3 linked regions of the Homo sapiens genome follow. The protein of the gene in region 1 purifies or fractionates together with the protein of each later gene. This does not show direct contact. Each region holds a gene or a part of one and is shown in the gene's direction. Other genes may lie near its edges.

What was found.
Region 2: the proteins of VSIG2 (region 1) and KIF14 purify together in Homo sapiens (affinity purification with mass spectrometry; 3 studies listed by BioGRID and IntAct, with this or other methods). This does not show direct contact.
Region 3: the proteins of VSIG2 (region 1) and TNPO3 purify together in Homo sapiens (affinity purification with mass spectrometry; 3 studies listed by BioGRID and IntAct, with this or other methods). This does not show direct contact.

What each region holds. Positions count from the first base shown.
Region 1 is NC_000011.10:124,750,043-124,753,793, reverse strand, and holds the start of VSIG2 (V-set and immunoglobulin domain-containing protein 2 isoform 1 precursor), read left to right. Parts: upstream 1-1,538; 5' UTR 1,539-1,656; coding exon 1,657-1,717; intron 1,718-2,213; coding exon 2,214-2,371; intron 2,372-2,872; coding exon 2,873-3,080; intron 3,081-3,751. Other genes in the region: ESAM (endothelial cell-selective adhesion molecule precursor), read left to right, coding at 1-148.
Region 2 is NC_000001.11:200,600,152-200,603,802, reverse strand, and holds part of KIF14 (kinesin-like protein KIF14), read left to right. Parts: intron 1-461; coding exon 462-577; intron 578-1,734; coding exon 1,735-1,907; intron 1,908-3,299; coding exon 3,300-3,447; intron 3,448-3,651. UniProt on the Homo sapiens protein: Microtubule motor protein that binds to microtubules with high affinity through each tubulin heterodimer and has an ATPase activity. Plays a role in many processes like cell division, cytokinesis and also in cell proliferation and apoptosis.
Region 3 is NC_000007.14:128,996,015-128,999,665, reverse strand, and holds part of TNPO3 (transportin-3), read left to right. Parts: intron 1-375; exon of another isoform or gene 376-443; intron 444-2,130; coding exon 2,131-2,277; intron 2,278-3,651. UniProt on the Homo sapiens protein: Importin, which transports target proteins into the nucleus. Specifically mediates the nuclear import of splicing factor serine/arginine (SR) proteins, such as RBM4, SFRS1 and SFRS2, by recognizing phosphorylated SR domains.

The sequences.
Region 1 (3,751 bases):
GCCCTCACCAAGACTGCCCACGACAGATGGGGCCCACCCTCAACCAATATCCCCCATCCCTGGTGGGGTTTCTTCCTCTGGCTTGAGCCGCATGGGTGCTGTGCCTGTGATGGTGCCTGCCCAGAGTCAAGCTGGCTCTCTGGTATGATGACCCCACCACTCATTGGCTAAAGGATTTGGGGTCTCTCCTTCCTATAAGGGTCACCTCTAGCACAGAGGCCTGAGTCATGGGAAAGAGTCACACTCCTGACCCTTAGTACTCTGCCCCCACCTCTCTTTACTGTGGGAAAACCATCTCAGTAAGACCTAAGTGTCCAGGAGACAGAAGGAGAAGAGGAAGTGGATCTGGAATTGGGAGGAGCCTCCACCCACCCCTGACTCCTCCTTATGAAGCCAGCTGCTGAAATTAGCTACTCACCAAGAGTGAGGGGCAGAGACTTCCAGTCACTGAGTCTCCCAGGCCCCCTTGATCTGTACCCCACCCCTATCTAACACCACCCTTGGCTCCCACTCCAGCTCCCTGTATTGATATAACCTGTCAGGCTGGCTTGGTTAGGTTTTACTGGGGCAGAGGATAGGGAATCTCTTATTAAAACTAACATGAAATATGTGTTGTTTTCATTTGCAAATTTAAATAAAGATACATAATGTTTGTATGAGATAAGAAACAAGTTGCCTTTTCAAACTAAGAATTCTTGAAATTGAGCTTCAGGAGGATGCAAAGTGGACCCCTTCCCAAGCTGTGTACCCAGGAGGGCTTCCCCCCACAGGCTTAGAGCAGCTCTTCTAGTGTTTAGAAGGGTCCTTGTTTGTCACGTGGAGAAGGGGAGGAGACTCTAAGCTACTCTGAACAGCAGAGGGATGGAGTTGATACGCTTTCTGCTGGAGCTTGAGTGCTCCCGGCTAGGGGGTACGTGTACCTCATCTGCTTCCTCTTCAGGGACAGGGGAGAGGAAGCTCACGTGGGCTCCTCTCCCACACCACGGAATCCTTAACAAAACACTCCTTGCCCATCTGGAAGAGATCTCTGTTGTTACTGAGGGAGAGCTGGGCATAGTATGAGGTGCAGGTCTGTGTCCAAGTTCTGCCATGTTCTTTCCTACCAAGGGTGAGGTCTCCTTTAGGTCTCAGTTTCTCTGCCCCTAAAATGGAGTGGCTCTGGAAATGGAGAGATGCTCATTTCTACAGAGACTCCTACCTCAGTAAGTGGTGAAATGAAAAGCGCTGTGGACAGGAAGGGTCTGCGGCCTGGGGCTCACACTCACAGTGAGGCTCCGAGGTGGGGACTCCCCTTGCCAGCTCTGGGGTATCAGGACGCCTTCCAAAGTCAGCTTTCCTTCCGTCTCTGCAGAAGGCCCACCCCAAGCCCAGCGCTTTTCCCAAGGCCGGACAGCTTCAGACCTTGGGGAGAAGAGGAAGGAAGGAGGAAGAAGGGACAGAGGGATTGCAGAATCGGGGCTGGAGGAGAGGAGGGAGGAGCACTTTTTTTTTTTTTTAACCTGCGGCGCCGGCCTCTCCCCTGTTTGCTCTGAGATACCAGTCTCGCTCCTGCCCAGCCCGGGCGGCTGCCCTTGGGTGCTCCCTTCCCTGCCCGACACCCAGACCGACCTTGACCGCCCACCTGGCAGGAGCAGGACAGGACGGCCGGACGCGGCCATGGCCGAGCTCCCGGGGCCCTTTCTCTGCGGGGCCCTGCTAGGCTTCCTGTGCCTGAGTGGTGAGGAGGGGCCGGGCGGGACCACGGCGAGGGCTGGGGGGCATAGGCCTGGCTTCCCCGGCTCCTCGGACCCACTCTGTCCCCGCCAGGCCAGATGAGGCTGCCGTGGGCGCCAGGGGCCCTAAGGCGCCTGAGGTGAGGCCGGAGAGGGGGTGTCCAAGGCCCGGAGGGCGTAGGAGAGAGACCCCCAAGCCGGCGAGCGAGTTGGGCCTCTCCGCGGCACAGGCCTGAACCACCCCACCGCAGGGCTAGTGTTTTCCTTTCTCTGCTAAACACACACACCCTCTTACCTGGCCCGGTTCCGGCTCTTTTACCCACAAAGACCCGGCCCCTCCCGGAAACCTCAGGTTTTGGGAAGGGAGGGGTTGGATTGAGGGGAGAGGGTTGTGCTCTGGGGAGGGAGCCCCCAGCTTCCAATATAGATGCCCGGGGGTGGGCCCGACCCTCCAGATCACTGGAATTTGGGTTCCCACCTCCCTCTGGTCCCCGGCCCCAGGGCTGGCCGTGGAGGTGAAGGTACCCACAGAGCCGCTGAGCACGCCCCTGGGGAAGACAGCCGAGCTGACCTGCACCTACAGCACGTCGGTGGGAGACAGCTTCGCCCTGGAGTGGAGCTTTGTGCAGCCTGGGAAACCCATCTCTGAGTCCCATCCAGTGAGCTGAGAGCGACTGCATGAAGCTGGGTTGGCCTGGAGGGACAGGAGCCCAGGATGAGGGCATGGGGTCGGGAGGGGGAGTTTGGGGATCAGTATGCTTGGATGAAAAGGTAAGTGGGCTCTCCCTAGATCTTTTCAGAGCTGCAGTCTGCCTGACCGTGTATCTTCCTTTCCTCTTCCATAGCTCCTATTTCCAACTCCCCTGCCTTAGTGTATCCATTGACACTAAGGTGTTGTGACTGATACCAAGATAATATGCTGCCTCTTCTGCCTCTCTCTTTGAGAGAGAGAGAGAGAGACCAATGGATCAGGTTCATTTAGCACCTGAAAGGGGGTGGTGTTTGGGGACAGAGAGACCTTTGGAGTTCCAGCTTAAGGGTATCAGCCTCCCTGGCTGATGTAAGTCAGAGGCCTCTTATACCCACTTTGATGAGGAAGGACTGTAGAGTTGATGCCAGGCAGAAACAGGCACATATGTGTGTCTTCTGCCTCTCCCCAGATCCTGTACTTCACCAATGGCCATCTGTATCCAACTGGTTCTAAGTCAAAGCGGGTCAGCCTGCTTCAGAACCCCCCCACAGTGGGGGTGGCCACACTGAAACTGACTGACGTCCACCCCTCAGATACTGGAACCTACCTCTGCCAAGTCAACAACCCACCAGATTTCTACACCAATGGGTTGGGGCTAATCAACCTTACTGTGCTGGGTAAGGCAGACTGGGGATCCACGAGCCACATACTCTTTCACATACTTGGGGCGTTTGCACTGGTCTTGCTAAATCTCTGGTTTCTGACTTTTAGCCCAAGCACACAACTGCACTGGGGGCCCCAAGTGAAAATACTCCCTTTCCAAGTCTTCTAATTCAGATGGTCATACTCCAACTCCACCCTCCACCGAGAGCATCTCCTCCATCAGAGCCTAATAACAGAGTGTGTGAGAGAAAGTCCTTCCCATACATGGGGATCTGAGCCTGCTCCCAGCAGCTCCATCATGGGGGAGGCTCTCATCGGTAGTTGGATTCTGTCCCTCCCAAGGTCAATGGCAGAGAAGGGGAGTGGCCACCAAAGGAACAAGGGCCCCTATTACTGAGCACCAACTTCGTGCTCAGAGCTTCTGTCTCACCCCAAACTAGAGCCTTTTCAGAGATGAGCAACCAGAAAAACTATCACAGAGACTGGCAGTGTTTAGATGGAAAAGAGAAGGCCTCGGATGGGTGTATTACTGCTGGATTCAACTATCCAAAGGGCTGTCATGTGGAGGAGAGATTTTAATTTCTCTTTGTGGGCCCAAAGGGCAGGAACTGAAACCAATGGGTGGAGGTTATGTTAACACACATTTTGGCTCAACATGAAGAAGAATTTTCTCTAACAATCAGAA
Region 2 (3,651 bases), on another chromosome or scaffold:
ATTCCTGAGGTCATTATTTTAAGGAGAATACAAACTGAATACACTTAACCTCCCCAAATATATCTTTATCTGCAGTTTATAGACTGCATTGCTGTGGTTGAAAAAGAGATACGTACTTTTTGGTTATGATTAATTTTTAAAGAAAATACGTTTGAGTCATAAGAAAGTTGGTAGTTTATAGAAAAAAGTATTTATAGACAGGCATTGTGGCATGTGTCTGTAGTCCCAGCTACTTGGTTCAGGTGGGAGGATTGCTTGAGCCTGGATGGTCGAGGCTACAGTGAGCCATGTTTATGCCACTGCACTCCAGCCTGGGCAACAGAGTGAGACTCTGTCTCAAAAAAAAAGAAAGTAAAAAAGTATTTACTCAGTAATTATATGAGGGGAGAAATATATTTTGTGAAATAAATTTCTTGCTGAGAAGTATTTTAAGTTAAAAATTTTTTTTTTCTTGCATGCAGGAAGGTGTGAGTATTAATAAGTCCTTGCTAACTTTGGGAAAAGTTATATCTGCACTTTCGGAACAAGCAAACCAAAGGAGTGTTTTTATTCCTTATCGTGAATCTGTTCTTACATGGCAAGTATCTTTTGAAGTATAAAGAATTGTATAAAATATAGTGAATACTATGGGGAAAAGAATGATAGACTGACTTCATTAACTTTGGGATGGAGAAAGGTGGTAAGCATTATGAATTCTAGAGCCAAACTACCTGGATTTGAATCTCAGCTCAGCATCTTATAAGCTCTGTGACTTTGGGCAAATTACTTAATATTCTAGCCCGTTTCCTCATCTGTAAAATAGGAATAAAATCAATACCTTTTAGGGGTAAGTGAGAATTAGATTATTAGTGTACAATTCTTAATACATAATATGTACTATATGAGTGTAAATAACTGTTCTTGTACTTAACTATTATTTGTGGCTGATGTTTGAACATATATGGTACTACCAAACATATTGCTAGTTGTATAAAGAGAAGTTGAATAATTTTGTTTGCTTACTACACAGTGACTAATACATGGGTGCTCAATAAATGTTTTCATTAGTGAATGTATATTTAATTTTCAATATGTTACATTCAGATTACATCTGTATGGATTTAATATTCAGTTGTGATAGGCATTAATATACAGTTACAATAAGGACTGCATCTTTACTTGAGGGTAATGTGTCTTTATAATTGGTTTATTACAATGTGATTGCCACCTTGAAACCTATAAGGGAAAATCTGATTTTTTTCATGTCTTATGAAAGTTAAAAATAGTGACATTCATTCTGCACTAATATATGTTTTAAGTCTCATACTCTTTTTCTCTAAAATAAAGATTTTGCTTTTAGTACAATATAGAATTTTTGTTTCAATGTTCATCATTTTCAACATTTATTGAGCACCTGCTTCAAAAGGTTGTGGTAGCACTGGAAATACAAAGATGACCAAGACACATAGTCCCTTCCCTATGGTAGCTCACAGTCATGAAATACTTGATGATCCACCACATTTTAGAATCTCTGCACAGATTATTGCCTCTTGAAACAATATAAAAAGTGTAAGAGAGAAAAAGTGTTTATGAGATCTAGAAATAGTTACAAATACCAGAAAAGTTTTAAATGGTATTTGAGTAGAGTATAATAATACTGTATTATATACCCTATTAGTTTGTTTTGTGCTTTCTAGATAATTACTGTTATTAAGTTGTTGTAGAAGCAAAGTCTTATGACTTTTTTTCTTGTAGGCTGTTAAAAGAAAGTCTGGGTGGAAATTCAAAAACTGCAATGATTGCTACGATTAGTCCCGCTGCCAGCAACATAGAAGAAACATTAAGCACACTTAGATATGCTAACCAAGCCCGTTTAATAGTCAACATTGCTAAAGTAAATGAAGATATGAACGCTAAGTTAATTAGAGGTGAATATTTTCTCAGAATTTAAAAATTGTTTTGCCACAGTTTAGTCCCAGATATTAGTTGCAGTCTTAAAATATGTAATTTATGAACATCAAAGGTGTTTTTCTATACCTATTTTAATAGATTCTAGTCATCAGCCTATAGTGATGGAGGATGATAGGTAGAAGGACAGATAATAAGTAATAAGGAGAAAAACAATTAGGAAAAGAACATAGAAAACAGAGTGTGAGTAAGGGGGAAACAGTAAGCATTAAACAATAAATTTACACAGTCATAGACGTGTGCAGCAAAATGCCAATAAAACTATTTACTATTTTTCTCTTATGACCTCTCTTCCATTGACGTTTTATGTACTAGCTCTGCTCATGCTTAGTTCATTGATCCAAAGGCAATTGGAGCTCGAGTTTCTAGTATAGGCTGAACTTCATTTATGCTAAATACTGCTTTCTATTTATCTCTAGGTAATCATCAATTTAGGATAGACTTTAATGCCTGCAAGAAATCTTGATTTGTACAGTTTTATCTTTGCTGATGTAGAACTATCATCTTTTCATGCCCCTTTGTCCTCTGGCCCTTTTTAGCAGCAGAAGGTGATAGACACTTCAGATGTATGAGCCAGAGAAGAATCTGATTTGTCTATCCTGGTCCATCCTTTCCCTTTTGGATCCCTTCTGTTTCACAAGTGGGACTGTTTTCATTAAAAATAAGTATTCTGGGCCGGGCATGGTGGCTCATGCCTATAATCCCAGCACTTTGAGAGGCTAACGCAGGCGGACTACTTAAGGTCAGGAGTTCGAGACCAGCCTGGCCAACATGGGGAAACCCTGTCTCTACTAAAAATACAAAAATTAGCCAGACACAGTGGTGGGCACCTGTAATCCTGGCTACTCGGGAAGCTGAGGCAGGAGAATTGCTTGAGCCCAGGAGGCGGAGGTTGCAATGAGCCGAGATCGTACCACTGCACTCTAGACAGTGAGACTCTGTCTAAATAAATAAATAAATAAATATTCTGAATTCCAGCTTGAAAAATCTTTGATCTTGGCTGTTCTGCCTAGTGAATAGCCATTCTTTTATTTCTTTACTTTTTAAATAAACTTTCACTTTAACAATTACCCTTTTGCCTCTCAAAAGTGTTCCACTTTGGTCAGTACATTATACAGCTTTCCTACTTATGAACAGGGAAAGTTCATTAATATGGGAGCATATTTCAGGTTAAGACTAAGTAAAGATTTATAGGTTATATAAAGTAGAGCTGATTTCTCCAATATTCTATTTTATTTAGTAATACTGTATTTAAAACTTCAAATGAAATAGAAGATTGGAGGATTATGCTTACTGTGGAAATTGTTATATATTAAATGTTATTATTAATGCATCTTTGTATAAATCTTCAGAATTGAAGGCAGAAATTGCAAAGCTAAAAGCTGCTCAGAGAAACAGTCGGAATATTGACCCTGAACGATACAGGCTCTGTCGGCAAGAAATAACATCCTTAAGAATGAAACTGCATCAACAGGAGAGAGACATGGCAGAAATGCAAAGGTAGAGTACAGTCAGTACTCTAAATGTTAAGTGTGTTGCTCTGGAATCATAGGAATGGCAGGGACCTCAAGAGGATACTGAGTATTTTTCCGACCTTCCTTATGAATAGAGCAGCCCACTCCCAGATTATCATATTTTAAATATTACTAGGTAGTTGCCTAATTTTCATTGATTGTCTCTTGACTCTCAATCTTATACATCTGG
Region 3 (3,651 bases), on another chromosome or scaffold:
GCACTCCAGCCTGGGAGACGAGCGAAACTCCGTCTCAAAAAAAAAAAAAAAAGTGAGAAAGAAGTGCTCCCAAGTTGGGCATTGTTTTAAATAGCTCTGTTTTGGATCCTTGATGGGAAAAGGATGGTAGGGATCCTCTTACTGTGCCTTAGGCACAGTGGTCCTGTGACTCTCGGCCTGTTTTCTGTTATCACATACAAGACAACGTTTATTTGTTTTACATAATGTTACGAGGATACCTAGATTTGAATGGAACCCAAAACATTTCTGGGAGAATGTAACACCACGCAGTTATCACTCCTTTAAACAGTACCATATGGAAAAGAGGCTACGAGTAAAATCCCAGGCTTTTTCTCCCTTTCTCTCACACTCAAGGAAACAGGTGAATAAAAGTGACATGAAGCTGAATCAGTTATGTTCAGGAGTTACAGATGGTTTGCCAAGTAAGAAATGTTCTAATCTCAAACATTCAATGAAATGATTTCAGAATTTTCAGAAAAGTACTTTAAAAAAGACTTCTGGCCGGGCGCAGTGGCTCACGCCTGTCAGCACCTTGGGAGGCCGAGGTGGGCAGATCATAAGGTCAGGAGTTCAAGACCAGCCTGACCAACATGATGAAACCCCATCTTTACTAAAAATACAAAAATTAGCTGGGGTGATGGTGCGCACCTGTAATCGCAGCTACTCAGGAGGCTGAGGCAGGAGAATCACTTGAACCCAGGAGGTGGAAGTTGCAGTGAGCCAAGATCACACCACTGTACTCCAGCCTGGGTGACAGAGCAAGACTCCATCTCAAAAAAAATAAATAAATAAAAATAAAAAGACTTCTGGCTGGGCACAGTGGTTTATACCTCTAATGAGGTTCATACCTCTTAACACTTTTGGAGGCTGAGGTGGGAGGATTGCTTGAGCCCATGAGTTCGAGACCAGCCTGGGCAACAAAGCAAGACCTTGTCTCTACAGAAAATTTAAAAAATTAGCTGGGTGTGGTGGTGCACACCTTTCATCCCAGCTACTCAGGAGGCTGAATGGGAGGATCACTTGAGCCCAGGAGTTTGAGGCTGCAGTGAGCCATGATTACACCACTGTACTCCAGCCTAGATGGCAGAGCAAGACCCTGTCGCTACAGAAAATTTTAAAAATTAGCCAGACATGGTGGCAAGCGCCTGTAGTCCTCCTAGCTACTCAGGAGGCTGTGTGGAAGGATTGCTTGAGCCCAGAAGTTCAAGGCTGCAGTGAGCCATGATTGTGCCACTGTGCTCCAGCCTAGGCGACCCTGTCTCTAAAGAAAATATATATATCTTTTGAGACAGGGTCTCACTCTGTTGCCTAGGCTGGAATGCTGTGGTGCAATCACAGCTCACTGTAGCCTCAGCCTCCTGGGCTCAGGTGATCCTCCAACCTCAGCCTCCTGAGTAGCTGGGAATACAGGCATGTGCCACCTACATGCCTGGCTAATTTTTGTATTTTTTTAGAGATGGTGTTTCGCGCCTGGCTGAAATTTGTTTTAAATAAAATAAAACTATGTGGTGGCTCATGCCTGTAGTCCCAGCACTTTGGGAGACCTAGGTGGGAGGATTACTTGAGGGCAGGAGTTCAAAACCATCCTGAGCAAGATGGCAAGGCCCTGTTTCTACTAAAAAAAAAAAAAAAAAAAAAAATTAGCTGAGCTTGGTGGTGTGTACCTGTAGTCCCAGCTACTTGGGAGGCTGAGGCAGGAGGATCACTTGAGCTCAGGAGTTTGAGGCAGCAGTGAACTGTGTTCATTCCACTGCACTCTAGCTGGGGCAACAGAATGAAACTCCGTCTCTAAAAAATAAATAAAAATAAAGACTTCCATGTCTGTTATTGTTTTCTCTAAATTCAAAATTCAGTATACTTTTGGAGGCATTACCTCAGGACTAAATGGAATGTAAAGCCAGTCATTCTAAATGGAGATTTGGGCCTAACGTGGGAAGACAATTTGGGGAGATAATAGTAAATCTGCTAGAGAAAAGGTGACTTCTTAACTGGCTCCACTCATATTATTTAAAAATATATCTTTCTTCCTATATGGTCGTGGTGATAATAAAATGTCTTCTTATTCTATTCCTTTCCCATTCAAATAAATCATCTCTTTTAACCTAACAGGTAGTAGAAATTTCATTTAACTTTTGGTACCGACTGGGGGAACATTTGTACAAAACTAACGATGAAGTTATTCATGGCATCTTCAAAGCTTACATTCAGAGGCTGCTTCACGCCTTGGCTCGACACTGCCAGCTGGAACCAGACCATGTAAGTTCCCTTCTCTACCTCTTCAAATCTTAATTTCTTCCTCTTGTCAGTGCCAACTTGAAAAGGAACTGAGAAGATAGATAATAAACCTGGCTGGGCACCCTGGCTCATGCCTGTAGTCCAGCACTTTGGGAGGCCAAGGCAGATGAATCGTTAGAGCCCAGGAATTCAAGACCAGCCTGGGCAACATAGGGAATCCCCTGTCTCTACAAAAAGAAATAAAAGAAAATTAGCTGGGCCTGGTGGCACACGCCTGTAGTCCTAGCTACTCAGGAAGCTGAGTTGGGAGGATTGGCAGACTCTACAGCTTATACTGAAGAAGTCAGTACCAGTATAATCTGTTAGGTCTATTTAGGGAAAAAAAAAAGCAAAACACTCCAGCTAAACCAGTAATTCTTTTCCTGGGAGTATATCTTAAATCTGCAGAAGAAAAAAACAGCTATTTTATATACAAAATGTTATCTGTAAAAGTAAAAATTATAAACCCATGTACAGCAGTATAACAAGAGTTATATGAATTATATAAGAAGAGTTATGATTTAGCAACTTGATGCAGCAATTAAAAGGTAGTGAAATGATGATATGGTAAGAGAAAAATCAGAATGTAAAATTATGTACTCTTTTTTTTTTTTTTTTTTTTTTTTTTGAGACGGAGTCTCGCTCTGTCACCCAGGCTGGAGTGCAGTGGCGTGATCTCTGCTCACTGCAAACTCTGCCTCCTGGGTTCACGCCATTCTCCTGTCTCAGCCTCCCGAGTAGCTGGGATTACAGGCACCCGCCACCATGCCAGGCTAATTATTTGTATATTTAGTAGAGATGGGGTTTCACCGTGTTAGCCAGGATGGTCTCGATCTCCTGACCTCATGATCCACCCACCTCAGCCTCCCAAAGTGCTGAGATTACAGGTGTGAGCCACCGCCCCTGGCCAAAATTTTGTACCTTATTAAATAGTAGAAAATAAGTGGTTAGATGAAAACTAATACAAAAGTGAAATATTTGTGTGTATGATTTTGCCCCATGAAGATACACATTTTTTAAATCTTATTTATACTGATTTTGTAGTTTAAAAGAATATAGAAATCTATTTGCTTAGAAAAAAATACTAGAAAATTATTAGTTTATTAGAAAACTCTTCAAACATCATGCTTAGTCTCTTCAAATTTTGCCACATCGATTTCATCCTGTTGGTTGGTTGAATCCGTCCTTTAATCTAGGACCTGCAGTAAGTTTTATTGCTTACAATTAAATCCCACGTGCTGTTCTCTTAATTTTAATGTTAGTATTGTGTTTGAGTCATGGTATTTTGTATCTCCACACAACCTTAGTCATGATTTAGTCTGGTGGTTTTCAAACTGCACCCACCCCCGCTATTTT